Linked DNA regions of Homo sapiens. Changing the gene in region 1 together with any one later gene gives a genetic interaction. Each region holds a gene or a part of one and is shown in the gene's direction. Other genes may lie near its edges.

What was found.
Region 2: changes in HDAC6 (region 1) and KDM5C together harm fitness more than expected from each alone (negative genetic interaction), as found in Homo sapiens cells (one large-scale study listed by BioGRID).
Region 3: changes in HDAC6 (region 1) and IGF1R together harm fitness more than expected from each alone (negative genetic interaction), as found in Homo sapiens cells (one large-scale study listed by BioGRID).
Region 4: changes in HDAC6 (region 1) and PBRM1 together harm fitness more than expected from each alone (negative genetic interaction), as found in Homo sapiens cells (one large-scale study listed by BioGRID).

The regions. Positions count from the first base shown.
Region 1 is NC_000023.11:48,802,488-48,810,591, forward strand, and holds part of HDAC6 (protein deacetylase HDAC6), read left to right. Parts: exon of another isoform or gene 1-64; intron 65-175; coding exon of another isoform or gene 176-205; coding exon 206-298; intron 299-383; coding exon 384-512; intron 513-640; coding exon 641-729; intron 730-2,950; coding exon 2,951-3,035; intron 3,036-3,143; coding exon 3,144-3,184; coding exon of another isoform or gene 3,185-3,188; exon of another isoform or gene 3,189-3,880; coding exon 3,881-3,977; exon of another isoform or gene 3,978-4,121; coding exon 4,122-4,219; exon of another isoform or gene 4,220-4,473; intron 4,474-5,545; coding exon 5,546-5,650; intron 5,651-5,770; coding exon 5,771-5,839; intron 5,840-8,104.
Region 2 is NC_000023.11:53,218,708-53,224,447, reverse strand, and holds part of KDM5C (lysine-specific demethylase 5C), read left to right. Parts: intron 1-3,531; coding exon 3,532-3,609; intron 3,610-5,740. UniProt on the Homo sapiens protein: Histone demethylase that specifically demethylates 'Lys-4' of histone H3, thereby playing a central role in histone code. Does not demethylate histone H3 'Lys-9', H3 'Lys-27', H3 'Lys-36', H3 'Lys-79' or H4 'Lys-20'.
Region 3 is NC_000015.10:98,905,935-98,914,038, forward strand, and holds part of IGF1R (insulin-like growth factor 1 receptor isoform 1 precursor), read left to right. Parts: intron 1-2,750; coding exon 2,751-2,965; intron 2,966-5,380; coding exon 5,381-5,507; intron 5,508-7,109; coding exon 7,110-7,348; intron 7,349-8,104. UniProt on the Homo sapiens protein: Receptor tyrosine kinase which mediates actions of insulin-like growth factor 1 (IGF1). Binds IGF1 with high affinity and IGF2 and insulin (INS) with a lower affinity. The activated IGF1R is involved in cell growth and survival control.
Region 4 is NC_000003.12:52,676,890-52,683,987, reverse strand, and holds part of PBRM1 (protein polybromo-1), read left to right. Parts: exon of another isoform or gene 1-1,896; intron 1,897-2,167; exon of another isoform or gene 2,168-2,245; coding exon of another isoform or gene 2,246-2,293; intron 2,294-3,061; exon of another isoform or gene 3,062-3,125; coding exon of another isoform or gene 3,126-3,128; intron 3,129-4,261; coding exon of another isoform or gene 4,262-4,276; coding exon 4,277-4,414; intron 4,415-5,390; coding exon 5,391-5,488; intron 5,489-7,098. UniProt on the Homo sapiens protein: Involved in transcriptional activation and repression of select genes by chromatin remodeling (alteration of DNA-nucleosome topology). Required for the stability of the SWI/SNF chromatin remodeling complex SWI/SNF-B (PBAF).

The DNA.
Region 1 (8,104 bases):
ACCTGAGTGGAGGGAGAAGGCCTGAGAGAGGCGGAGTTTGGAAGGCTGTGGAGAATCAGATCGCGTAAGGAATGGAATCTAATAGAGGGGGCGGAGCCTGGAAAAGGGCAGAGAGGTGGGGTCCTCAGGGCACACTAGCCCCCTCACATACCCACGCTCCTCCCCCCACCCCCAGAACCGCGGCAGGGGCCAAGCCTCCTCAACTATGACCTCAACCGGCCAGGATTCCACCACAACCAGGCAGCGAAGAAGTAGGCAGAACCCCCAGTCGCCCCCTCAGGACTCCAGTGTCACTTCGGTGAGGCCCTAGACCCGCCCTGATGAGGGGGAGAGGGAGCAAGTTGGTCATGCCCTGGACTCTGACCCTTCTCTCTGATTCACAGAAGCGAAATATTAAAAAGGGAGCCGTTCCCCGCTCTATCCCCAATCTAGCGGAGGTAAAGAAGAAAGGCAAAATGAAGAAGCTCGGCCAAGCAATGGAAGAAGACCTAATCGTGGGACTGCAAGGGATGGTGAGCAGGGCCTGGCTGCAGTTTAGCCTCGTATGACAATCAAAACCCAAAGGTTCCCCACCCTGGACAGTTCCCTCTGACTCAGGGCCTAAAATGGATCTGTGTCTCCTTTTTTTTTTCCTCTGCAGGATCTGAACCTTGAGGCTGAAGCACTGGCTGGCACTGGCTTGGTGTTGGATGAGCAGTTAAATGAATTCCATTGCCTCTGGGATGACAGGTGAGGCTGGGTCCTCCAGGCTGTCTCCAAACCACAAAAATACACACACTTAGAGCCCATTAGCAAGAATAAATCTTTTCTTACCCCAGCCTGGATACTGGAAGCAGATGATTTGGGGAGGTAGGGCTCACACTTGAAAGGGTTCTTTTATGTAGCTAACAAACATTTATTGAGTGCCTATTGTGTGCCAAGAGTTGGTGATACAAATGTACCAAACAACAGACAGGGGTCCTTCTCTAGGAGCGGATTGATGAGTAGGAGGGCAGATCATTAAACAGCCAACAGCAGTATGAGGTGTTTAATGAAGACAGACTTAAGACCAGGGGATTCAAGGGTGTATAATAGAGGATCCTAAACTAGTATCCGGGCTTCCCAGAAGCCTTTATAGAGGAAGAGACGTTTGTACTGAAACAGAAGGATGAAACCTCCCGTTTGCTTTACTTTTCAAAAAGAATCAGCAAATCCTTTTGGCTATATGTTCAAAATATATTCACCATCTGACCTCTCCTCACCACCTCCACTGCCACCATCATCATCACTCACCTAGACTTGCAGAGGCCTCCTCCCTGGTCCCCTACTTCCAACCTCACCTCTATTATCTGTTCATGCAGCAACCTAAAAAAATATGTATGAGTTGATGTCTTTGTTAAAATACTTTAAGGAGGCCAGGCATGGTGGCTCACGCCTATAATCCCAGCACTTTGGGGGGGCCAAGGCAGGTGGATCACTTGAGGTCAGGAGTTCGAGACCGGTCTGACCAACGCGATGAAACACTGTCTCTACTAAAAATACAAAAATTAGTTGGGCGTGGTGGCACACACCTGTAATCCTAGCTACTTGGGAGGCTGAGGCAGGAGAATCGCTTGATCTGGGAGGCGGAGGTTGCAGTGAGCCGAGATTGTGCCATTGCACCCCAGCCTGGGCAACAAGAGCAAAACTCTGTCTCAAAAAGTAAAAATAAAAAAAAAAAAAGTACTTTAAGGGCAAACTGTTGCCCTCAAGGTAAAGTCCAAATTTTTCATCCTGGCCTCAAAGGTTCCACATGATCTGGCTCCACATCACTTTGTGACCTCATCAGCCAATCCTTCTCGCCCACACTACTCCCCTTGTTCTTCCAACATGCCAGGCACCCTCTTGCCTCTGGTCTGTACCCTGACCAACCCCTTTCCCAGAGATTCTTTTCGGTCTTCTACTCTTCCAGCTGCCTTTCACATCCCAATGAGACTTTCTCAGAGAAGGTTTTGCCTGGCCAAACCCTACCCCAATACCTGATCTTATTTTCCTAGCCCATGACATTGTTTGCTAATTATCATACTTGTGTGTTTACCAATTAATATCTATATCCCTTATCCCAACCTAAGACTAACTTACTATGGGAAAAAGACTTCTTTTATGGAATACCTATTTACCATCTATTGAGGAGCTAGGGATACAGCAGTAAACAAAACAAACAAAAGCCTGTGTCTTCAGGGTAAAGGGGGAAGACAGACAATAAATAAACAAAAAGTAAATGATGCACTGTGGTAGAAAGAGCAGTGTTATGAAGAAGCAGTAAAGGGAGGATAGTAGGAGAAAGTACAGTGGAGGAGACTTCAATTTTAAATAGGCTGGTCAGGGAAGGCCTCACTATTTGAGCAGGGATCTGAAGAGGTGAAGGAGTAAGTCATGGAGACAGTTGGAGGAAGAGTATTCTAGGCGGGGGTGGGGGGGCCAGCTAGAGTAAAGTTCTAGGGCTGGCTGAAGAGTATTTGGTTCAACTGAGAACCAGGGAAGAGACCAGTGTAGGTGAAGCGAAGCAAAGGAAAGAGGGAGGGGTAGGAGATGGGGTCAGAGAGGTGATGGAGGACAGATTGTTTAGGGCCTTCTGGGCATGGGTAATACTTTGGCTTTTACTCAGAATGGGATGGGAGCCTCGAAGGGACATGAACTGATTAGGGTTTTAACCAGTGTCTAGCTGCTATGCACAGAAAGGACCGTTGAGGTGGCGAGGGTCGAAGCAGGGAGGCCGAGGAGATGCCGCCACAGCCCAGGCGGGAGGGTATGGTAATAGCAGTGGCAGTGGTGAGGAGAGGGTCACACACCAGAGCTGATGGGAGGCAGGACTGACACCACAGTTTTGGGGTAAGCAGCTGTGGAAGGGTGGATGGGGAGATGTGGAGAGAACAGATGTGGAGCTCCCCAGTGTCCTCATGCATCTGTGACTGTGACTCCATCTCCCCAGCTTCCCGGAAGGCCCTGAGCGGCTCCATGCCATCAAGGAGCAACTGATCCAGGAGGGCCTCCTAGATCGCTGCGTGTCCTTTCAGGTAAGGCCCCCAAGCCAACACTCTGGGTGAAGGGCAGGGAGCTGACCTGACCTGGGTGCAGCCCATGCCTTAACCCTTTACCCCACTTTATTCCTCATCTCTCCCCAGGCCCGGTTTGCTGAAAAGGAAGAGCTGATGTTGGTTCACAGGTGAAGGCTTGGGAGCCTTGTAGGGATGGGGAGGAGCCTGCCCTGGACAAACCAGGGCAAGCTAAACGCTTTGGGAAGCAATGTCATGGTCTCTGCAGCCAGCCTTGGGCAAGTCGCTGAGCCTTTCTGAATCTGTGTCATCGCCTGTAACAAGGGGACCAGTAAACATAAGTTCCTCAGGAGAGTTTGATGTGTGTCAGGTGCTTAGAACAGGGCCTGATATATAATCAGCCCATGATGAGCTATTACTGTTATCATGATCTGATTGTGTGAATAGATGGTGGATGTGTGGACAGAGTGATCGGGGTTCCCCCAGGGGCTTCCAGATTTAGAGGCCTAGTGCTATGTGGCTTGAGGAAAGCTAGCTTCCAGAGCAGGTATCTGAGCTGAACTTTAAGAGGAGAAAAAGAGTGAGTCAGATGAAGAGGGTGACTGAGGGAAGGGAAGAACAGACAGCTGAACCAGTGTGGCCAAAGGCCTGAAAGTAGGATTTGGTGTGGCTACTGCAGGGGAGCAGAGAACATTACCTGAACTGAGGCGGGCTAGGGAAGAAACAGAATGTGTCTTATATCCTGGCTATTCCTTCAGGTTGACAGTTGGGGGAGCCAAGCCCTAATTTGACCAGGGGGTTGGTGTATGGACAGCTCAGTTGGGGAAGAGACAGGGCCCTGAATCTCATCTCCCATCTGTGTCTAGCCTAGAATATATTGATCTGATGGAAACAACCCAGTACATGAATGAGGGAGAACTCCGTGTCCTAGCAGACACCTACGACTCAGTTTATCTGCATCCGGTATGGATGAGAACTCTGCGGGCAGGGAATGGTGGCAATCTTGGGGTCCCCATCCCTATGCCCACCCCACCCTGGGGGAAGCAGCTGAGTGGATAGGGCTGTTCTCTCCCTTACTCCCTTTCTGGCTCCCCACTGTCTCTCCAGAACTCATACTCCTGTGCCTGCCTGGCCTCAGGCTCTGTCCTCAGGCTGGTGGATGCGGTCCTGGGGGCTGAGATCCGGAATGGCATGGCCATCATTAGGTAGGACTCTACAGCATTTGACTTTTTACATTGTTTTAAAGTCCTTCCTTCAAGTGTAAAATGTATTGATATGGGTAATATATTCATGTGATTCAAGAATCCAAAGGTAAAAAAGAGAATATAATTAAAAATCTGTCTCCCATCCTTGTCACCCAGACACCTGCCTCCTCTCATGGGAGGTAGTCATTGGAACCACTGACTCATGTGTCCTCCCACAAAGTCTTATTCAAGAAATAAATACCATATTTCATTGATTCTAAGGTGTACATTTTTTCATATTTGTAACATCTTGAAATCCAGATGCATCTTACAAACAGTGACATCTCAGAATTCCATTGGCAGTATTTTCTGCTTCGTTTTTGGCATGTAAAATCATGGTACATCTTATCATCATTGGCATCCCAGAACTGATGAAATGCAAAAGCTTTCTCCTCCCTCCCCTGTTTTTAACCACAAATGGTAGTAACATGACATACTCCCTTCGTACCATCTTTTCACTTACACATCTTGGAAACCTTTCTCTAACAGTATGTATCTTGGAGCCCGGTAGAACACCATTGTGTAAATGCACTCTATGTTAATCAGTCCCCGACTAATGGGCATTTTGGTTCTCCCCAGTCATTTGCTGTTTTAAAAAAATGCTACAGCAAATATGCTAGTACCTTTATAAAAATAAAATTTTATTTTACACTAACATAAAATAAAAATGTTACTTCACCCTTTTTAAAACACAGGTTGTGGGCTAAGTTCCTGCAGCAGAATGACTGGGTATGAGAATGAATGCGTTGATCATTTTATTTTTATTTTTATTTATTTATTTATTTTGAGACGGAGTCTCGCTCTGTCACCAGGCTGGAGTGCAGTGATGCAATCTTGGCTCACTGCAACCTCTGCCTCCCAGGTTCAAGTGATTCTCCTGCCTCAGCCTCCCAAGTAGCTGGGACTACAGTCGCCCGCCACCACACCCAGCTAATTTTTTGTATTTTTAGTAGAGACGGGGTTTCACCGTGTTGGCCAGGATGGTCTTGATCTCTTGACCTCGTGGTCCACCCACCTCGGCCTCCCAAAGTGCTGGGATTACAGGCCTGAGCCACCGCACCCGGCCTTTATCATTTTAGTGAACATTTTCAAATCTCCTTTGGAGACAGAGGGGTAGATTGGCAGGGGGTGAGAGTTTGAGGGCCTCCATTACTCAGTTCCCGGCAGATTTTTAGGCATCAGCATTAAAGGAATTGGTGGTCCAGGATTAGAGAGCAGGGGACAGTCTGTCTCTGCAGAGGAGGACCCCTCACATACTCCAAGCTGTTATTTCCTTGTCTTGCCCAGGCCTCCTGGACATCACGCCCAGCACAGTCTTATGGATGGCTATTGCATGTTCAACCACGTGGCTGTGGCAGCCCGCTATGCTCAACAGAAACACCGCATCCGGAGGTCAGCAACAGAGGGCAGATGTGATGGGGGTGGCATGGGGTGGGGTGTCCTGGTCTGGGCTCTTCCCCCAGATTCACCTTGATCTCCTTGCACAGAGTCCCCTCTCTCTGCTGCTCCTAGGGTCCTTATCGTAGATTGGGATGTGCACCACGGTCAAGGAACACAGTTCACCTTCGACCAGGACCCCAGGTATACCCCGACTCCCACCTAGGTGCTAGACTCCCAGCCACCTCCCACCCTTACAGGCCCAGCCAGAAGGGGTCCAGAAGGAGGAAAAGGCATTCACATTCATGGGGCCTATCCTGGGATCAGGATCTGTGCTACTTTTGTGTGTCTGCCATCTCTCCTAATTTCACTCTGAGGCAGGGACTGTTGGGTTCCCTATTTTACAGATAGGGGGACTGAGGCTTATACGTTAAGAGGTCACACAGAGAAGAACTGGGAGAGACGGGATTTGACCCACAAATATTTGAAGATCTTATTCACTGATTAACCGTTGGGTTAGAGTGAACCTCAAATTACTGCTTTATTTTTTCTGATTAGGATAATGCTTCAAAGTGTTTGTTTATCCTTTCAGTAGATAGTAAAAAACAAATATAAATAAATAAATAACAAACTATTTGTTTAAAGAAATTAAATAATACAGAAGTGTCTGAAGCAGTGAGTCTCCTCTAATTTCCATTACCTCAAAAATAAGTGTTGACAGTTTAGGTTATATCCTTACAGATTTTCTCTATAGATGTCTGAATTTTTATTATTATTGTTATAATTATTAATAACACACTGCCTAATGGAATAATTCTCCACATGTTCTTCGACAACTTGCTTTATTCATTTAACAGCATATCTGGGACATTTCTCCATGTTAGTACCTCTTAAAGTATCTCGTTCTTTGTAGTATTCAATTTTATGACTGTACCTCTGGTTATTTAACCCCAGGACTTTTAAGATGCCTGCCAGTTTTTGCTATTACAGGCACTTCTACTGTGAATAGTCTAGTAAATATGTAATTCTGCACTTCTCTGAGTCTATCTGTAGGATGAATTTCTAACAGTGGGTTGCTTGGGCCAGAGAGTCAGCATACTTTAAAGTCTGGTATACACTGCCAGACTTCCCTCCAGGAGGGGACCAGCTTACCCTTCCTGCAGAAAGTGATTGAGCAAGTCCTTGTCAGTAGGAGACATTACTAAGTACATGTCGAGTATCCCTTATATGAAGTGCTTGGAACCAGAAGTATTTCACATTTCAGATTTTTTCAGATTTTGAAATATTTATATTATACTTAGTGGTTGAGCATCCTTAATCTGAAAACCCAAAATCCGAAATACCCCAATGAGCATTTCCTTTGAGCATCATGTTGGCCTTCAAAAAGTTTAGGATTTTAGGGCCGGGTGAAGTAGCTCACTCCTGTAATCCCAGTACTTTGGGAGGCCGAGGCGGATCACCTGAGGTCAGGAGTTCAAGATCAGCTTGGCCAACATGGTGAAACCCCGTCTCTACAAAAATACAGAAAAATTAGCCAGGCGTGGTGGCACACACCTGTATTTCCAGCTACTCAGGAGGCTGAGGCAGGAGAATCACTTGAACCCAGGAGGCAGAGGTTGCAGTGAGCTGAGATCGCACCACTGCACTCCAGCCTGGGTGATAGACTGAGACCCCATCTAAAAAAAAAAAAAAAGTTTAGGATTTTACAGCATTTCAGATTTCAGATTTCTAGATTAGGGATGCTCAACCTGTAGTAGTTTTATCTAGCCTTCTTCCTAGCTGACTACAGAGAATCCACTTATCCAAGATCTGAAGAATCCAATTTAGGTTGGTTGTTCTCTAGACATTGCTTTATTATTTTGCAGCATTCAGTGTTCCTGACAGGTGTCTGCTTTTCATTCCTTTCCAAGTAATCTACTTTCCTCTCTGCAAGGTTATCTTGGTGTTCTTTTTTTTTTTTTTTTAAATTATTAGACAGGGTATCACTCTGTCACCCAGGCTGGAGTATAGTAGCATGATCATAGCCCACTGTAACCTCAAACTCCTGGGCTCAAGCAATCCTCCTGCCTCAGCCTCCCAAGTAGCTAGGACTGCAGGCATGTGCCACCACACCCAGCTAATTTTTTAAATTATTTGTAGAGACAGGGTCTCACTATATTGCCCAGACTGGTCTCGAACTCCTGACCTCAAGTGTCCTCCCACTGCAGCCTCTCAAAGCACTGAGATTACAGGCATGAGCCACTGTACCTAGCCTTGATGTTCTAAACTTTTACCCTGGCCTTTTCACTCTGTTTAATAGTAGGTAGACATTTTACATCTGAAGATTCATGCTTTTCTTAAACTCTTGGAAATTATTTTCTATTAGATCTTTGATAATTTCTTCTTTGTTTTCTCTGTTCTCTTTCTAGGACTTCTGTTAGTCAGATGTTAGACTTCCTGGGTTGATCCTCTATGTCTCTCTCTTTTTTA
Region 2 (5,740 bases), 4.4 Mb from region 1:
GCACATCTCTTAGCCCGGGCCACCTAGGTCGAGGCTGTAAAAATAAGACGTTTCTCCAATCTGTTGTCATCACTTCCTTTAAGGCAGGCAGCATAGTATAGTATTAATAGAAAGATCGCAGTCCTGAAGGGAGACAGACTTGAGTTCAAAACTCCACTTTGAAGCTGAGCAGCTGTGTGACCTTGGGAAAGTAGAAGTAATCTCTCTGAGCCCGTGAAATGGATCCCAGAAATGGTTATTTAGAGGATTGAATTAAACTAGGTAGCGTCTGTATGTAGTACGCACTAGATAAGTGGTAATTATTGTGACTGTGAGGGTGTTTGATGTGGTCATTGGTTTATTCCTATGTAGGTTGACTCATATTTACTCATACCTTGCCAGGCCAATTCATCTATGATAATATCCTGGCCTGCTGGACCAGTCAGGAAATCAGTCTCACAGGGATTGCTCTGTCTCCCTTGAGGTGGGTTCAGGGAATTGTCCTCTTCTTTTCCTCGTTGAAGGCAATGTCAAGGCCTTTTCTGCACATCATCCCGCAGACTTGACTTCCTATGGAGATGTTTGGACCGGTCAGCTTGGTGGTGGGGTGTGAGTCCTTCTCAGAAGATTTCTACTCTCCTCTGGTCCAGGATGTAGGAGATCCCAGAGGATAGGGCACTCTTGGGCCCGCAGAACAGAATGGAGCCATGGAATTCTGTCCCTTTTGGAACATGATTGCCAGGGGTCAGCAACAAAGGCCATAGCTTTCCTCCTAGGCCTGGCTTCAGGCTAGAAGTCTCCCAAGGGCTAGGGCAAGCTGCTGCCTTGCTGATATGGTGGAAAAGTGATGATAATGTTCAGTGATCAGTTGGGATTCCAAGGGCAGAAATTGAGCTTTGCTGGAAAAGGGTGTTTTTGAGTGGGTGTCTCCTGGCTGAAATGGAATAGGAAGCTTCATTCCCACCTGAGGAGGGCACCACAGGCCTCCTTATCCAACTTGGTGCTTTCTGGTGCTCAGCCACAGATCTAGGATGGTTTCAGATAGATCCTCTAGGAGGTGTTGGGTAAGCGAATTTCTTCCTTCTTGGAGTCTGGCCACAGATTTCTGAGGTATCCTTGTCCATGGTGAGGGAGTGGCAGTGGGTAGAGGGTCAGGAAGGCTAGTGGAAGGGAGAGGCAGGAGTCCTGGGCAGCCTCAAGGAGGCACTCCCTGAAGTGGTTGGGCAAGCCTGTGGGAAAAAGAGGCATAGCTGACGTAGGGGGTAGTTGAGGCCTGAATTCCTTTTTTCTATCTTGGACTGACTTAGGCAGGCTGGCCTTGTGTAGGTGTTGTTACCCTGCTTTGGGGCATCAGGAAGGGGAAGAGTGACATGTCCCAGGTGTGCATGGCCAGCAGGAGGCCGTCCTTTTCACTGCTCAACAGTGTGCTTCTCTCTAATCCAGGATACCTGGCTCTCTGGTTTGGTTTTGTTTTTTCCTTCTCTATGGCAGCTCCTAGGCCACCTTTAGGCAGCTGGCCTTCTTCTGGTTGAAGTTTGAAGTACTCGCTCAAGTGATGCTTGGGCCCAGGGTGGGAACCTGTATATGGGTGGGTACCTGGGAATTGGAGGTTTGCTGGAGGAAGGATGGTTTGGGGCCTGAATTGCTGGGCAGGTGACTGCTACGCTTGGGAAAGATGGGTGGGAGGAGAGTGTGGGTACCCTGAGTAGACCCAGTGGAGTTTGGAAGGATCTTGCTTTCTTCATCAGGTAGCCAGCCTTTTTTTTATCACCACATCCCAGTAATACCAACATACATTTGGCATACAGTAGTCTGGAGATGAAGGCAGGCGGTTTGCAGGGCCTTCCCAGGTATCTGTTGCATCCATGGCTCCTGCCGTAGCATTCCAGGGCTGCCATTTCCTGTCAGGTGCTTGATGTTGCACTGATTGTCTAGAACTTGATTCAGCAGGAAAGAAGGGTGCCCGGAGTTTTGGGTTTGAGCACCTTTTTAGCTGGGTTACCTGTGCTGAGGGGAGTGCCCTATCCTGATGAGAGGCAAGAGGGCATGGGGAGCTTGTCTGGATTTGAGCCATACCATTTTGGCCTGCCTGTTTTTTTTTTTTTTTGTCCCTGCTTACTGAGCCCCAGATGTTTGCCACCTGCTTTGGCTGGTAGGGGCAGGGGAGTGTGGTCTGTGTATGCATGCAAAATATGAGTCCTCTAGCCCATTTTCTAAAAGTGTGTGTGCAGAAGAGGTCAACAGTTTTTCTTCTCTTTCACTGTCTCTCCCCCCCGCCCACGTGTATGCATGTATGTATGAACATTGATGTCTGGTGTAGTGCAAAGGCCTTGGATCAGAGGTCAGAAGACGTGGGTTCTTGGCCCCACCACTAACTCAGCATGTAATTTTGGAAATTTCACTTTTTTTCTCTGAGCCTCACTTTCCCCATTTATAAAATGAGAACATTGGTTTAGGTTACTTTAGGTTGATTTCACCACCCCAGCAGGAGCCAGGGCTCTGGGAAGGAGAGGTCTGCATAGGAGGTTGGAAAGGGGTGTTGGAGAGGGGGTTCTTCACAGCTGACCTTTGGGCAGGACACAGCAAGCTCCAACTTGGCAGAGCAGAGTGTCTCCCACTTTCATGATCTTTCCCTGACTTCCCTCCCCAAATCCTCCCATTCTTTGCCACCACAGTCAGGCATCCCAGCACTTACCCCCACCCCCTGGGGCTTCCTCCCCTGCCTCTTCCTGTACCAGGCAGGTGTATGAGAGAGGATCTACAGGAAGCCTTCCAGACTGGGTGAGTGATACACATACTTGCTCCCTGTTCCTTGCTCTTCCCTGCAGTGTCTATCTCAGGCCCTTTAAACTGAGAGAACAAACATTAAAGGCCCAAACCTTTACGTCCTGCCACAATCGGACCTGAGCTACCCTGCATGTGTATTGTGAGGTGTGGTCAGCCTTAGATGTCAGGTCATAACGGTGACTCCTTTGAATAACATTTTCATTTGAAAACTAGTTTTAATTTTCCATATTGGTCTGGCAAGGAAGCCAGGGCTAGAGTTCATATTCCCACCTCACAGATGAGAAAACAGGTTCAGAAAGCTAAAATCTCATAGCTAGTAAGTAGCGGATCTAGAACATGAACCCATATCTTCTGACTCTAGATCCTGTGTGCTTTCCAGTACTCCCAGGCCTGTGTGTCCTACAGCACGTGCCTAGGGGATAAGGAATTAATGTGGGTGTGGAGAAGGTTTAGGGTCAACAAAACAGAGGCTCCATCTCTTAATTTCTTGAAATCCTGGCACTGTACTGTTGGGTGGGACTCAGGAGAAGTTTCCTAGGGCATGTGCATGGGGCCTTGGGTGCAGACTTGAGGGGCTGCTAGACTCTTGTGAGTTCTGGGGGGAGGTGGGGGTGGGTGGTTGGGTAGGATGTTTGCAGGTTAAAGGGTCTGGAGTGGCTAGAGGTTTGGGAAGGTGCCAGTGGGATTCCGAGCTGCTTTTGGTGACTTCCGGTCTTACACTATGCTGAGATAACTCAAGTCCCTTTCCCCTCTCTACCCTCTCAGGACTGGCAGCCACCCTTTGCTGTGGAAGTGGACAACTTCAGGTTTACCCCCCGAATCCAGAGGCTGAATGAGCTAGAGGTGAGAAGACTAGGAGCTGGTGGTGGGGTTGGGAGAATGTATACCTGAGTTCTAATCCCACTTCCCTTATAGTTTCTCTGGCTGAGGTACTTTACCTAGCTAGGCCTTTATTCTCTCTTCTGTGAAATTGCATTACTTTAGTGTGCCCAGGGCGTGGAAGAAGCTTTAGAGCTCTAAATATAACCAAGAGCCAGGGGCATTTAGCATTTGTGATTTGATAGCCCAAAGGCTGGGGACATATATCCCTTTCTCACAAAGGTTTGCTACTTCTGAAACTCCCCTGTAAACTAGCCTACCCTAGCTGAGTCAACAAAAAGGAATTATGGAACTGGCTGATACCCCTTCTTCCTTGGCCAGCTGAATGTGGCTTCATATATCCAATTCATCCACAGCCCTGTGCTTTCTACTTTGCTTCCATGGGTGCTTGGTAAGGTGGGAGTTTGGGTAGATGGGCAGAACAACACAAGAACTGGGCTCTGTGGAGGCTGGAATGGTTAGAGACTTGGCCAGGGGTCAGGCAGGTAGGATTTTCCTTCTCCCTTTTGTTCTGTACAGGAAGTCCAGGCCCTTTTCATGGACAGGTGGGGTTTTTCCTGCTTGAGAATGCCCTGGGGTAGTGAGATTAGGTTCCCTAAAGCCAGTTCCACGTAAGATCCTGGAGTTTTCCATGGCAGCTCTAGGTTAGGCATATGTTGCCACTCCCTCCCCCATTATTATGTACCCACAAATCTTAATAGATGTCCAAGGGGTGGGGCATTAGGCCCAGGCCCAGCTGAATACTTATACCCTAAAAGTTCACTTGTGTTCTAGACCAGAGTTCCTCAGCCTCGGCACTATTAACATTTTGGGAAGCTAAGGTGGGAGGATTGCTTGAGCTCAGGAGTTCAAGACCAGTTTGGGCAACATAGCAAGACCCCATCTCAGAAAAGAAAAATATATCTTGTCAGGTTTATAGGGGTACAGCTTGGGCAAGATGTTGCCTAGCATGACACAAGGGCAGGTTTTCTGTAGAGGGAGTGCTGACTAATAAGAAGGAGCAGGGATGAGGCCAACTTCAGAAAGCTAAGGGGCTGAGGTTGAAGGAGCACTTCCTTGCCCTTTGAGAGTTCTCACAGCCAAGGAACTGTAGGTTGTTTCTTTCTACAAATAGACCTTAGTTTTTCTCAACTATGAAATGGAAAGAGCTGTCTTTGTTCCCCCTAATGGGATCAGGGCAAGGTAGTGAATGGTAATGACTATCTAGTTCTTCCAAGAACCAGGCTCTCTGACTGGAGTGAGGAGGTTGTAGACTTGGGGCCTATGGGAGTCCTTCTTGGTTACTGAGATTTCAGGGAAGCATCATACATATCTTGTTTCTAGTCTCCTTGGCCCACATTGGGTCCTGGGTTGGCCAGGTGCTAGTGCTACTCTGATATACCATCTCTTAGTTCTAGGCCATTCTGTCTATAGTTATAGCATGCACTTTCACCCTTTAGCCACCATGGAACAAGTTTGGTGGTACATAAGGAGGTGCATGTGCCTTTTTGGAGCTTGCTTTCTCTGAAACATGCCTAGAGCTTAGATATAATTCTGAAATCTGCAGAGGATCTTCACTGGTCCCCTCATTAAGTCTACCCCTCTGGGGTAAGTGGACTGTGCAGTTATTTTCCTTTTATAATTATTAGTAAAAGGAAAAAGGAGTCCACAGTGGAACTGATTTGCTCAAGGCAGCATAGCAAATCAGTAGCAGAGGGAGAGCCAAAGCTCAAATTATTTGGCACCAAAATATCTTGATGCTTGCTGTGTGTCCTAACTCCTCTGAGCCTCTGTTTCCTCATCTGTATAGGAGATGATAATACTCACATGACCTTGTCAGGGAGATTAGAGGACATATCTAAAGCTTTTGGCAGTTGTGACCCTCTCTATTGGGACCTTGGGCTTCTCTGATTGACTGGAAGGTGACAAATGAGAGAGAGGTGGCTGGGTGCAGTGGTGCAGTGGCTTGTGCCTGTGATCCCAGCTCTTTGGGAGGCCGAAGTGGATGGATTGCTTGAGCTTAGGAGTTTGAGACCAGCCTGGTAACATGGTGAAACTTCATTGCTACAAAAAATACAAAATTAGCCGGGCGTGGTGGCGTGCGCCTATAGTTCCA
Region 3 (8,104 bases), on another chromosome or scaffold:
TTGACAGGCAGCTCATGAATGGCTTGATTATTATTTTGACAAGGGTTTTATTTTTATTTTTCTTTAGCTTCCACAGGCTCCATAATGCCTGGGTTTTATTGATATTGGTATCCTGGCTCCCAGCCTCTTCAATGATTGTAAAAAATGTTTGTGTTTACTGTAAAAAGATAATCTTGCTTTTCAAAGTGATTAGTCAAATACACAGAATTTCAGTGTGCCTGCCATTCATTTGTCAAATTCCTGGTTTATAATTCATGCTTCCTCCCGTGGGGGAGAAGAATGTTTTGTTCAGAAGGTATTTTTGGTGTGGTTCCGTTCCCTGCTAGTGAAATTAGTTTATGAAAAGAGGCCTGGTTCTGGGTGTAGATGGAAGTTTGGCCTGATTAATTGGTCCTTACCGGCAGCCCAGAGGTTTCTTCATCAACAAGGAGATTTTGTCCTGTAACTAACTCAGGTACCTGGAAGCAGCCCGACATTTGGGGGTGCATCGCTGCAGTCTCCTTTGGAGCTGGAGAAACCTATGAGCAAGAATGGGCTTATGACACATCCATTTCCACTCCATCCCTCCTTCCGTTGTATGACTGCATGGAGCCCCTCTGACCTCCAGCAGTGTCACCTGCAGCCTGGTAGTGAGAAACAGCAGGTATGGATGGGGTCTACCCCCAGCAACAGTAGCGCCAGCTGGGCCATATCCTGGCACTGCTCCCCAGGAAACACACCTTGTGTTGCATTGACCAGATCTGGGATCATTTGGACAATGTCTTATGCTGCTTTTCCAGGATAGCTGTGTGTTCAGGAGGGAGCCCTTACTGAAAGGAAAGAACTGTTGACTTACAAGTTTTTGCTACCGGTTTGGTGGTCACTAATGTGTCCAGAGGCCTGAAGATGGGCGTGTGAGGAGCCTGACTTAGCTTCAGAGGCTCTGTCTTTCGACTCACTTGTGTGCTCACTGCACCCCTGTGCTGGCAGGACTCCAACCTCCACCCCCAGCACTTGTGTGGACAGAGAGCCCAGTGCTCAGGAAAGGGTTGGGCTTCAGGCTTGTGATGCAGATTCCGTGGTGGCTCTGTGACTCCTTCTGGTCGTTCTTAAAGTAGACAGGGAGCTTAGATGTCACCTGTGCATTCCCCTTGTTGTCCTACGAGTGAGTAAACAGGGCTACAGATAGCACTAAGGGATCTGCGCATGGCTGTGCAGCTCATTCATGGCATTTCTGGTCCTGGGTCCCAGTCTCTGAACTCCTTCCTGGTCTGACGTCCCTTTGTGAATGTTCAGGAAAATGTCACAGGGCTGCTTGGCAGCATTGTAACCATAATTTGTGCTTTACTGTAAATGAGAATCAGGCTGAGGATTGACCAGCTGGTTAGAGGTCCTGGTTTGGGTGTAAATGAAGACCCTCACCAGATGCAGAGAGATCCCCAATGGACATAGCCTCCAGGGCAGACGAAGCCTTAGGGGTTCTGTTTTGTCCTGGCTACGCTGGCTCTGCAGGGAGGGCTGGGGTTCTTTCTCCTTTGTGTGTTTATACATTAGATCTGTGAGTGGATCTTAGAAGTCACTCAAAGTACTGCACTGATTCCCAAACTTAGTAAGAAGCAGAGCAGGAAGAGGAGAAGAAGGATTCACGGTCCATGGGGATCAGGCCCATCAGCACAGAGGACTCAGAAGTCAACCCTGGCATTGTCTGCTGCCTTCCTGGGGAAGCCAGAGAGAAAGGCCCACTGCGGGGATCTTTCTCTAGACCTAAGCCGTAGCTGTCTGCTTTCTTGCCTCTCCAGGGATGGACTTGTCCTGCCACCTGGGTAGCCAGATAGAACGGCTTCCTGTGCTGGTTGGATCTGCTACTCGTGTGCACACCCTCTGGGGCAGAAGCCACGTCTGGTTTGGTGGGCTTTGGTCCTCCACCACCTCACTGGAACTCAGCCTCTCCTAGATTGCTGGTTCTCCACGTGTGGTCCAGGGACCACAGCAGGGGTCAGCACCACCTGGGATTTGTGATAAATGCAGATTCTTTGCCCACCCCAGCTGAATCAGAAGCTCTGGGGGTGGGGCCCAGCCCTTTGCAAACAAGCTTTGTGCACACTGAACTTGGAGAACCACTGTGTTGGACTCCGAGTCCTCTTGCCTGGATGAGAGGCCCAAGAGCACTGCATGTTAGTGGCTCTTCCTCCTCCCCCACACCTCCAGGGACTGGAGCTGGGGCTGCTCAGAATGAAAGATGAATGGGGGAGGGAGAAGGCCCAGGGTTGACCCCCCACAAGCTTGTCTCCCTGTCTCATGCTGTCTCCTATCCCATCATGCTGCTGATTGGGCAGGATTTACTTCCATGGATAATGGGAGACTTTAGAGCAAAGTGTACGCTGTTCCGATTGGGTAGCAGAGCATGTCTGTTCTCTCATGGACTGCTTTCAAGCACGTTGTACATACTTGGCTGAGAAAAATAACCAAAGGCATTTCTTGGGAATGATTCTAGTAACATCCTCTGGTACAAGAAGCATTATTTGATGGTAATAGTGGTCATAGAATTAATTAGCATCTTACCGATTTTGATATGTTATCCTTGAATCATGTTGCTGCCATTGTTAACAGCAACTGTCTGTTCTCCTATAGTGTTAATAACTAAATCTCTTATTGGCAAAGGAAATGTATTGTGGAGCAGGTGGCAAAGAGGACCTGTGTTACGTGGCCAGCAGGCTAGAGGGGACTGTGGCCAAGGGCAGGTGCGCTAACATCGATTTCTGTGCTTCTAGGAATTACTCCTTCTACGTCCTCGACAACCAGAACTTGCAGCAACTGTGGGACTGGGACCACCGCAACCTGACCATCAAAGCAGGGAAAATGTACTTTGCTTTCAATCCCAAATTATGTGTTTCCGAAATTTACCGCATGGAGGAAGTGACGGGGACTAAAGGGCGCCAAAGCAAAGGGGACATAAACACCAGGAACAACGGGGAGAGAGCCTCCTGTGAGTGACAGCATCCAAAACACCGTGGGCCCAACCATCATGATAACAGCAGACCCTCCTCCCATGTGTGATGGCAGCTTTCCTCTGCGGCCCCTCCTGGTTTCACATGGGGGACCACTAGACCATCTTAACTAGCACTTTGCTCCTACTTATATGTCATCACAATCAGTAGTGGGCAGATACGTGATGTATTCGTATTTATAAATTCTGTACATCTCTGTGAGTGTGTGAAACACTTATAAGTAGGTTCTCAAACTTTAAAGTGCTGCTTACAGAATGCACAGTTAAATGTCCTTTTATACACAGGTGCACAGTTAGATATTTCTCTTTCTTTTTTCTTTTCTTTTTTTTCTTTTTTTTTCTTTTTTTTTTTTTTTTTTGAGATGGAGTCTCACTCTGTCACCCAGGCTGGGGTGCAGTGGCATGATCTTGGCTCACTGTAACCTCCACCTCGGTTCAAGCGGTTCTCATGCCTCAGCCTCCCGAGCAGCTGAGATTACAGACACCTGCCACCATGCCCAGCTAATTTTTGGATTTTTAGTAGAGACGGGATTTCATCATGTTGGCCAGGCTGGCCTCAAACTCCTGACCTCAAATGATCCACGTGCCTCAGCCTCCCAAAGTGCTGGGATTACAGGCTTGAGCCACCATGCCCTGTCCGATTATTTTTCAGGGAAGAGCCAGTGTGCTTCAGCCCTATGAGCTCTACCCTTCTGCTCCCACAGAAGGGAAGCACAGGCCTGTGGGGTGGAGGGGGCTCTGCCCTAAGCGCAGCCCCTGTGGGCCACGGGTTTCCTGTCCCTTACACTCGGCCGCCTTGTTTCTCCCACCCCAACATGAAAAAGATGGAGTGAGCCTGCAGCCCTGAGTTGATATTGCTTTTTAAATTGAGAACAATATAATTACAGCCTTGTACTGTTTATAAAACTTTAAGGTCTCATATCAGAGATACAGCAGTGCCTTTCTCATCTAACCCTGTGTAGAATACGGCTGTTGAGAATGGCGTGGCTCTCTGGCTGGATAGGGTTATAAAAGTAAATCGTCTTTTCACCTTTGGCTTTTAATAAGGGAAGGGTATTAGAAAAAAAGTAATTTGTATGATGAAGGGTGATTTGTGCGTGTGTGCAGACAGACACACATGCAGGGAGGCAAATCAGAACCGATGCGTGTTTGGCTTTGGCTTGTTTCGCTGGTGTCTGGATTTACCTGGCGACACTTGTTGCTCTGGGGGATCTTAGAGGGAAGCACGCTGACTGACCTAGGGCTGAACAGCAGGCTGACGACCAGCGCCGCCTCCCGCCCCCTGCTCACTCTATCCCTGCAAAGCCCCTGCCTTGCTCCCTGTTCAGATCATAGTAAAATCGGATGTATCCGAGTATTTCAGAGTGCTTGTCTCCTTAGAGTCAGCCAGTCTGACCTGTCAGATCATAATACATAGTAGCCGTTTATTTTCTTTTGAAAGCAAAATCATGGTTTCCTCTCTAAATAACACTTCAGCAGGAACTGTGACATTTCCCAATCTCAGTTGCGCACATTTTGTCCTAAAGACTTCTTAGCTCTTTTACTGTCTTCAGTCCCTCTGCTTCACCTCTTGAGTGTGTAGTGGGATTCAGGCAGATAAGAGGGCGAAAGGACAATTCGTCAGAGAGCTCTGGGTCTCCATGAGGGTGGGCAGTCATCAGTCTTTCCCTGGTCCTTATCGTAGTTTGAATTTGGTCCAAGGAATAAGAGAGACACTTGGCACAGCTTCCCTGCCATACCCGCCAGCCAGGCTACTTCCCATAGAGCACGTTAGGCTTGGCCAAGTGAGATCTTCTTGTCAGTGCTTAATCCAGCCTCCCGTTGTTTGTCAGCCCTAGCTGGAGGCCTCACAGGAGTTCCTGTGTCCTTCCAGTTTGATACCAAGTTTAGACCAAGAAAAGTTCCTTTCTGTGGCACACCTGTAGTCTCTTACCTGTCTTTGGTGGTTGTACACGAACAGGCAGATATCCACAACTGCAGAACAAGTGTCATCGTCTCTCTTAAGAAGTTTCAGGGCAGCCTAAAGGCTCACCTTCACCCTACCAGGCCCCCTTTCATAGCCAGGATCTTAGGGATGGAGAAGAAAGATAAGTTCACCTCGTTCACTGAAGTCGCCCCTTGTTTTCAGGTTAGGAAACCCAGGTTCATGTCCAAGTCCCTGGGCAAGTAGCCAGCGTAACTGATTGACCTAAAACAAAGGATGGAGCCCTTGGAGCTCTGCATAGTGAAATGTATGATTTCTTAGTGGAAAACGAGAAAGCCACTGAGGAAGCCCAGAAGGGAACTTAGCATATACAGCCAGCTTTGGGGAAGGGGGAAGCAGTGCCAAGCAAGACAGGTGCTTTTCAGAGACACATGAATCTCTGTCACTCACGGATGTACTCTTTGCCCCAGGTGAAAGTGACGTCCTGCATTTCACCTCCACCACCACGTCGAAGAATCGCATCATCATAACCTGGCACCGGTACCGGCCCCCTGACTACAGGGATCTCATCAGCTTCACCGTTTACTACAAGGAAGCGTGAGTTTCTGCTTTGGGTGATGCCATTCTGTTGACAGGGCTACGAATGGGAGAGGCCAGTCTTTCGATCCTTGAATGGGCTGGCTGAATACAGGGGGTCAGCAGAGTCCCCAGGGAGAGCCACGCCAAACATCCCTACTTCATCCTCATGCACCCTCTCGGGCTGTCCCTGTGATGTCAGTCACAGCCAGTGACAGCCATGATTGGGAAAGTGTTAGCTCGAGGCCTGTCATTCTTTAGTGAGTGATTAGAGGTGTTTGAATAAAATAAACCCAAAATGGGGAAAGCTTGCTTTTTCCAGAATTAGGTCAGTCCAGACTCATGAACGATGATGGGGGACTTCACTGAAATATCGTTTCAGCCTCCTTACCTACTAGGCCTACTCCAGGAACACCCTGCAGGCACGTGGCTCTTTTGTATCATCTTATTCCTGTCTCTCTCTCTGTGTGCCTCTCCCAAGCTGTGGCCCTCTGCTCTAGGTCATGAGCCTTCCAAACAAGCGAAGAAAAGTGGAGAGAGAACAACCTTCATGTCTTGAGCCTTTTGTGACTTCTCCTAGACTCTGTTGGGAGCTTTTCCTGTGTGATCACATGACATTCCCCCATCTAAGCAGCCGAGGCTTATTCCTCCCGACTGCAGCCCTCTTTGATCTCCCTCTTCCTTCCTTTGCCTTCTATATCCAGGTGGCTACCCCGGTCTACTTAGCCATCCCCCTTACCCAGGTCCCATGTTAATCCCATAGTTCTCTCTCCCAGATGTGTGGCTTCCAAAGAGCAGCAACCAGAGGCACCTTATGACAGCATCTTGTACTCTTTCCTCCTGCCAGAGCTGGGGTCCTATGAATGAGAAATTGGGTACTTAGGATTACTAGGCTTTCAGAGTTTGTACACAGGGGAGCCCCTCATGATCTCCCATCCCATGACAGCAGACGGTGTTTTGTTCATGTTTGTTTCAGAAGCCAGCGGCCAGCAGCTGTCCAGCCCTTTTAGCTGATAAATATAAAATACCTACCCAACCATGCATCTGTGCGAAGTACTATATTCTCTGATAGTCACACCAGTGCTTTGGCAATGTCAGCTGGTAATTTCACTGAGGACTTGATGCTGGTTTCTAAGGCAATCTGGAAACTAAATATTTGAATATTATAAGATGCTTAAGCATCAGAATTGTTTATGAGCAATCTGAATTTTAGAAGCTACTTCTGTTTGTCTGTAGGAAAGTCATTTTTCTCCAACAGTTACCTTCTTTCAATATCTGATATTTGCATTAACTGACTATGCTTGTTTTTTTCTTGATGAAAAAATGCTGCAATCAGAAGAGAGAAAAATAGTTTTTGCATATGTTCTTAAGGAATAGTAACTATTGAATCCCAGTAACTGTTGAAGTGGCTCTTCCTGAGGCAGACCATTCAATTCTGTAATGCCCGACTGGGGAAGCCCAGAGTCCAGTCACTTCATTTCTTCTTCTATAAAAGTCTAATTGATTATTTGTTTATTTAGACCTCCCATTATAGAAAGTGTGACATGCTGGGCCTCTGGGGAAGATTTTTGAGGGTTTTGATGTCAGAGCCCCGAACTTTCTCTGAACTTAATTGTCTTTCAGACCCTTTAAGAATGTCACAGAGTATGATGGGCAGGATGCCTGCGGCTCCAACAGCTGGAACATGGTGGACGTGGACCTCCCGCCCAACAAGGACGTGGAGCCCGGCATCTTACTACATGGGCTGAAGCCCTGGACTCAGTACGCCGTTTACGTCAAGGCTGTGACCCTCACCATGGTGGAGAACGACCATATCCGTGGGGCCAAGAGTGAGATCTTGTACATTCGCACCAATGCTTCAGGTATCCATGCCTAGACAAGCCCCCAGCATCCACACTTCTTCGCAAGCTCACTGGCCTTGCTTGTACCAGGTGTCATTGTAGGGTTAGCAGTGAGCTATGCCTGTTGTCTTTCTTGTCAATAGGTAATACTGTGTCATATTCATTTCCCCACTGCTAACACATTAGGCTCTTCTGTGCCATTTTCTGGCCTCGGTACTATCTTCCATCATCTCCTGCTTTGTGCCTGTGAGCCCAGGTCCTCCAGGGTGCTGGGCTGGTTTCATTGGAAGGCCCAGCCTGGAAACAGCCGTCTTCAGCTGCCCTTGTTTCTTGTTTGTTTTGATGTTCAATCCTCCAGGAACTGAAACCATGCTGATCTGTGTTCCACTTAATTCATGTAGCTCACTGGTTTTCCATCTTCATTCTGGAGCTTATAGAGTTCCAAAGAGGTCAACAAAAGTTGAAAGCCTGCAGATGTAGTATGTTGTGGATATTCAGAGTATTCACTGATGATGAGGTTCCTCCTTCCTTTATCTTTAGGTTCTAAACCATCTCATTTCTCAACTCCAGATCTGGAAACAGTAAAAGCAAACGTTAATAGTTTCCAGTATATAAAAACTAGTTTAGAAGTAGGAAAATCCACTTCAGTTTTAAAGACACTGATTGTTTTAGTGTATTGGAGCTTCTATCACAAAAAAACAGTGTAGCCTGGGTGGCTTATAAGCAATAGAAATGTATTTCTCACAGTTCCAGAAGCCACAAAGTGCAAGATCAAGG
Region 4 (7,098 bases), on another chromosome or scaffold:
TGTTATCCAGTCTGGTCTTGAACTCTCTGCCTCAAGCGGTCATCCTGCCTCAGCCTCTCCAAGTGCTGGGACTACAGATATGAGCCCCTGTGCCTGGCTGAGGACTTTTAAACTATACAAATAAACTTTTTTTTTTGAAGGTCTCAAGTGCACTTTTTTTTTGTTTTTTTTGGAGACAGTCTTACTCTGTCCCCCAGCCTGGAGTGCAGTGGCGCAATCCCAGCTCACTGCAATCTCTGCCTCTCTGGTTCAAGCAATTCTCGTGCCTCACCCTCTCGAGTGCCTGGGATTACAGGTGCATGCCACCACCTTGCCTAGATAATTTTTTGTATTTTTGATAGAGACGGGGTTTCACCGTGTTGGCCAGGCTGGTCTTGAACTCCTGACCTCAGGTGATCTGCCCACCTCAGCCTCCTAAATTGCTGGGATTACAGGCATGAGCCACTGTGCCTGGCCCTAAGTGCACTTTTAATACATTTATTAAAAGATAAACTGAGCACATAACCTATACCAAATACTATCCTGTAAGACAGGTCTACAAAAATGAATATGCTGTTCCTGTGCCTGGGGAACATGCAGAAGTGATTTCACTTTATGTTGTTTTTTTTTTTTTCTTGAGACGGTCTCGCTCTGTCACCCAGACTGGAGTGCAGTGGTATGATCTCGGCTTGCTGCAACCTCTGCCTCCTGGGTTCAAGCAATTCTCATGCTTCAGCCTCCCAAGTAACTGGGTTTACAGGCATGCACTGCCTCAGCCAGCTAATTTTTTTTTTTATTATTTTTTTGAGACAGAGTCTTGCTCTGACGTCCAGGGTGGAGTGCAGTGGTGCCATCTCGGCTCACTGCAACCTCCGCCTCCCGGGTTCAAGCGATTCTCCTGCCTCAGTCTCCCAAGTAGCTGGGATTACAGGTGCGTGCCACCAAGCCCAGCCAATTTTTTTTGTATTTTTAGTGGAGACGGGGTTTCACCGTGTTAGCCAGGATGGTCTTGATCTCCTGACCTCAGGTGATCCATCCGCCTTAGCCTCCCAAAGCGCTGGGATTACAGACATGAGCCACCGCACCCAGCTAAATTTTTGTATTTTTCTTTAGTAGAGACAGGGTTTCACCACGTTGGCCAGTCTGGTCTCGAACTCCAAGTGATGCACTGGCCTCGGCCTTCCAAAGTGCTGGGATTACAGGCATGACCCACCACTCCCGGCATTACGTTCTTATTTTAGAGATGAAACAGATCTGAGAGGTTACATCAACTAATCAGACAACATCAAGCTGATAATCAGAGGTGGAAGACTTAGGACTCCTATTCTGGTCTTAGGAGCAAAGGTCCTGTTGTTTCTCCCACCTTATAACATTGCCCTTCTTGTCAGACTTTCAAAATACATTTTAAAATGTGTCCCATGGATAAGAAAATACTTGAAAATTATCCTTAAGTTGAAACTTTTTCTTATCTTACCAAAGTAAATTAATGATTCAAGGATATTGGGATATTGTGTCATCCGAACGACATACACATGCTGATAATGTATTTTTTTGTCATTTGATTTTCAGTGGATTATTTATAAAAGTAATTTTGAACTCCTGCCAAAATGGTTGGCCCTTTTTTTTTTTTTTTTAACCTTGTCAAATTTTTATATGGTGTCTCCAATGCAGATAGGACTTTTGGAAATAAATGTTCTTTCTCTGAATTTTTTTTTTGTGGGGGAGGGTGTTTTCCAGACCTTTTGCTCACATGAGCCATTCTTGGTTTGTTCCAGCTTGCCAACACTTGGTGTCACATGTGAGCCTCCCACATGTATTCACTCTCCATTCCAGCTCTGTGATTGAACTCTGCTCTTATTGACTAGGGGGCAGTTGGGCAGGCATGCCTCATTCCTGGAATTGACAGTCATTCCTAATGTGAGTAAAGGGGAACCTCAATGAGACATCTTTAAACATATGAAAGCATTTGGTTTTAAAATGGAAGAACTGTCAGGTACTGTTAGTGCCTGAGCCTTTGCAGCAGTTTGTTTGATAGGTACAAGAGAACTGATATGCCTGTTTTCTCCAGTTCTCTTTATCTTTCTTTAGCAGTTCTATTTGAATGTTTTCTATCTATTCGTACTCATTTTTACTCCTTCTGACCCTTCTTTTCTATTTCCCCCTTCTCTGCCTTGTTCTTCTTTTTCAGTTTTGAATATACTAACACTGAATCAGCACTTCTAAAGCCCTTCCTTCTCCCACTGGCTTCACTTGGCTTTCAGACATAATGAGGAGACTGGCTTTTCGAGGCGCTGGTTGTGCTCTGGTAAAGCTGGTAAATTACTGATTATCTACACCCTTTCCCTTTTCTGTCCTTCCTTGACTTTTTCCTTCCACCTTTCTTAAATTTTTGTTATCCTTTCCACAAAGATTCCCTCCTTATGTTCATCAAATTCACTTGTGTCTTTGTCATAGATTGTTTAAAAGGGATTGGTCCTTAATTTATCTTAATGAATTGAGTCCTGTTGATCAGCTTTTTATAAAATGAACAAAAATCAGCAAAACTTGGCTAAGTTTTGGCTAAGCCTTTTGACGATTTTAACTACTTTTAGCCAACTTCAAACTAATAATACTGTATAACAAACCGAAGCCTAGAGTAAGGAACATCATCGTGGTAGATTTTGTTTTAAACACCATGTGGACTTTAGTTTGGAAAAAGAGATCTGAGACTTCTCTTTTTCCTTAATTGCTCACCAGGATTTTCAAATGTGATTCTTTTGCTCCTTCTTTCTGTTTCCTGGAGATCCCCAACCTTTCTTTCCATACTGCTGGCAACCAGTGTTCTCCTGTTCTAATCATTCAGCTGCTGGTGTCGTAGTGTCCTGAAATTCAGTGTTTCCATGTGCCTTACAATTATGAGGTACTCTAGTTCTATGAGGTTCCTCATAATTGTAAGGCACATGGAAAAGCAGATGAGGTGCTGACTCAAGAAGTGAATACCTTGGGGCCTCTGAACCCCAGGCCTGCCTGACTACCTCAGGGGCTGAAGGATCAATACCTTCAGTGTTGATGAGTGAAACTGGGATCTTTTTTTTTCTTTTAGCTTTAGAAAAAGGCCTTTGACGGGCGGATCACGAGGTCAAGAGATTGGGACCATCCTAGCCAACATGGTGAAACCCCGTCTCTACTAAAAATACAAAAATTAGCTGGGTGTGATGGCACACGCCTTAGTCCCAGATACTCTGGAGGCTGAGGCAGGAGAATCGCTTGAAACTGGGAGGTGGAGGGAGGTTGCAGTGAGCAGAGATCGTGCCACTGTACTCCAGCCTGGTGACAGAGCGAGACTCCACCTAAAAAAGAAAGAAAGAAAGAAAGAAAAAGGCCTTTCAAATCACAATATACTATTTGATAGTATTGTTAGATTGTATTGCAATATAAGCATTGCAGGACTTTCTTGGGTATATACTATCTGTAGCAGATCATTCAGTGGTTGCATTTCTTGTGTTGTAAATAGAGTTATAGTTAAAATTGTTATAGTTAAATAGAGTACGTGTTATAGTTAGAGTATGTCATATCACTAAAAGGTGATTAGTTTGAATTAACAGAAGAGTTTCAAAGGATAGTTTGTACCTCTGTCTAGGTATAGCAAGTCTCATTAAGTGTTTTCCAGGGATATGTCTTGTGGATCCTGTTTTAATGAATGGAGAACATTCATTTTCAGGGTTTTAATTTTAGAGTACATCTAAAGTGCTAGAAGGTTAATTGTCCTCTGTCCCCTTACCTTTTTGCACTACTCATTTGTCCTGGGCTCTGCTTCTTGCTCTTTTCCACATGATGGCCCACCTAGCAAATGATCATAATTGTAAGGCACATAGAGAAGCAGATGAGGTGCTGACTCCAGAGGTGGATACCTTGGGGCCTCTGTACCCCAGGCCTGCCTGACTGCCTCATGGGCTGAAGGCTTAATACCTTCAGCACACTAATGTACTGCTACATATAGGTTGGGAAACTCTAGGCCAAATTTGGAGCCAGAAGTTGAGTCATTCAAGATTGCTGATATACAAATGAATATGCTTTTGTTGAATTTGTCCCATCAAAATTGGAAGTATAGCATTCTGGTAAGTGAAAGACTAAAACAAGGAAGTCCAGGGCTTAAAAAAAAAAAAAAACTTATAGCTAGTTAAACTACAACACGTTAAAATATCCTCCTAAGTGAGCCAGGAGTTTGGTAGCAGGTGTCCAGCTGAAGACTTGGTGACAGAGTCTATTTAAATGTAAGAACATGGCTGATTATTTCTTATAGAAGAAGTTGGATTCCATGGGTTCCAAGAGAAGAAGAGCTACCTCCCCTTCCAGCAGTGTCAGCGGGGACTTTGATGATGGGCACCATTCTGTGTCAACACCAGGCCCAAGCAGGAAAAGGAGGAGACTTTCCAATCTTCCAACTGTAGATCCTGTGAGTAACTTGGATTACATGGTTTCTGCCTGCTCTTCCCACAATTCCCCTATCTTCCCTTTAATGGTAAAATTGTTACGATGCAAGGCATCTCCACTTTTTTAAGATTCTCTTGATTAATAGTCTTTTCTTTTATGAACATTATGTATTCAGCTAAGTCTTAGAGTAATAGTGTGATCTTATGAATAATTTCAGTATGTTACATCATATATTAATTCAGCAAATAACTGTGTGACTATCATGTGACAAGCACTGTTCTCATGGTTGGGATATAGCCATGTGGAAACAAGCCCATTTTTCACATGGAACTTAGATTCCAGGCGGGGGAAGTAGAATGTAAACAAGTAAACGAATAAAGAATAATGTATCCTTAGCTAGTAATAAGTGCTAAGAAGAAAATTTTGGGTGATTTGGGCTGTTTTGGCCTGAATTCGCTGGAAGAGAGTTCCAGACAGAACCAGTGCAGAGGGGTTGGGTCAGGGATGAGTTTTGTGTGTCTTGGTTACAGAGCAGGGGATGGTCAGGAAGGAGAAGGAAACTGGCAAGCTCCACCCATTCAGAGTATGTAGGGCCCACACAAGCAATGTTTGGAGTTTAGATTTTATTCTCTGTGAAGTGATAAACCCTTCTGTCAGATGGCTTTAAGCAAGAGAGTGATAAACTGATTTAGTTTCAAAGAAGAAAACCCTTCAATTGGATGACTTTAAGCAAGAAAGTGATGAACTGATATAGTTTAGAAGACAAAATCACCAGGAGCATAAATCTGATGAAAGATACCAAAAAGTTAGTCAACTCAGTTGTTTGAAAGGAGACATATTGTCAGCATATTTCAGACTTTAGCATGTTTGGTAATATTGAGAGTCATCATTTTTCTTCTCTACTTGCCTTTTATTGAAGAGTAGAAAATAATTCTTATGTCTACACTGGCTTTCTGTTCACTTTTTTAGTGATTTTTTTCTCCTTTGCTAATGTGTAGATTGCCGTGTGCCATGAACTCTATAATACCATCCGAGACTATAAGGATGAACAGGGCAGACTTCTCTGTGAGCTCTTCATTAGGGCACCAAAGCGAAGGTGAGTTCGAAGCACATCAGTACAGTTGCGGGGGATTTGGTCCAGAGTCCATGTGTATTAAAGTGTTTGGAAATTGAGCTTTTTGTTGGCAGGAATGGCTTAAATGATACTGGGGTCCAATTTTAGTCTTTAGTCTTTAGTAATCAAGCTGTAGTGAAGCTTTTTTTAAATTAAAAATCTGTTGAGCCAGGCACAGTAACATGCACCTATAATCCCAGCTACTTGATTTTTTGAGCCAGGCACAGGAGCATGCACTTGTAATCCCAGCTACATGGGAGACTAAGGCAAGAGAATTGCTTGATCCAAGGAGTATGACACCAGCCTGGGCAACATAATGAGACCCCGTCTCTTAAAAACAAAAACAAAAAAAATGACCTATGCGGAAAGATCTCTTGAGGCCAAGAATTTGAGACCAGCCTGGGCAACATAGTGAGACCCATCTCTACAAAAAATTTTTTGAAAAATTAGCCAGGTGTGGTGGTGCTCACCTATAGACCCAGCTACTAGGGAGGCTGGGGTGGTAGGATTGTTTGAGCCTGGGAATTTGAGGCTGCAGTAAGCCATGAGTGTCACTGCACTCCAACCTGGGTGATGGAGCAAGAGCTTGCCTAAAAATAAATATTTAAAAAAGAGTACTGACCAGGCACAGTGGCTCACGCCTGTAATCCCACCACTTTGGGAGGTCTATAGGTGGGCAAATCACCTGAGGCCAGGAGTTCGAGACCAGCCTGGCCAACATGGCAAAACCCTGTCTCTACTAAAAAATACAAAAATTAGCCAGGTGCAAGGCTGGGCGCAATGGCTCATTCCTGTAATCCTAGCACTTTGGGAGGCGAAGGCGGGTGGATCAGCTGAGGTCAGCAGTTTGAGACCAGCCTGGCCAACGTGGTGAAACCCCGTCTCTACTAAAAATACAAAAATTAGCCAGGCTTGGTGGTGGGCGCCTGTAATCCCAGCTACTTGGGAGACTGAGGCAGGAGAATCACTTGAACCCGGGAGGTGGAGGTTGCAGTGAGCCGAGATCGTACCGTTGCACTCCAGCCTTGGTGACAAGAGTGAAACTCCATCTCAAAAAAAAAAAAAAAAAAAAAGCCGAGCATGGTGGTGGGGCGCCTGTAATCCCAGCTACTTGGGAGGCTGAGGCAGGAGAATTGCTTGAACCTGGGAGGCAGAGGTTGCAGTGAGCTGAGATCCCGCCACTGTATTCCAGCCTGGGTGATAGAGCCATTCTGTAGGTTGCCTTTTCATTTTGTACGGTGTCCTTAGATGTACAAAAGGTTTTAATTTTCATGAAGTTTATGTTGTCTTTTTCTCTTGTTGCCTGTGCCTTTGGTGTCATATCCATGAAATTAATGCCAAATCCAATATCATGAAGCTTTTCCCCTATGTTTTTGTATTAATCAGGGTTCTCTTGGACAGGACTAGGCTGCAAATTTTCCAAACTTTTATGCTCTGCTTCCCTTATAAAACTGAATGCCTTAAACAGTACCCAACTCACCTCTTGAATGCTTTGCTGCTTAGAAGTTTCTTCTGCCAGATACCCTAAATCATCTTTCTCAAGTTCAAACTTCCACAGATCTCTAGAGCAGGGGCGAAATGCCCCAGTCTCT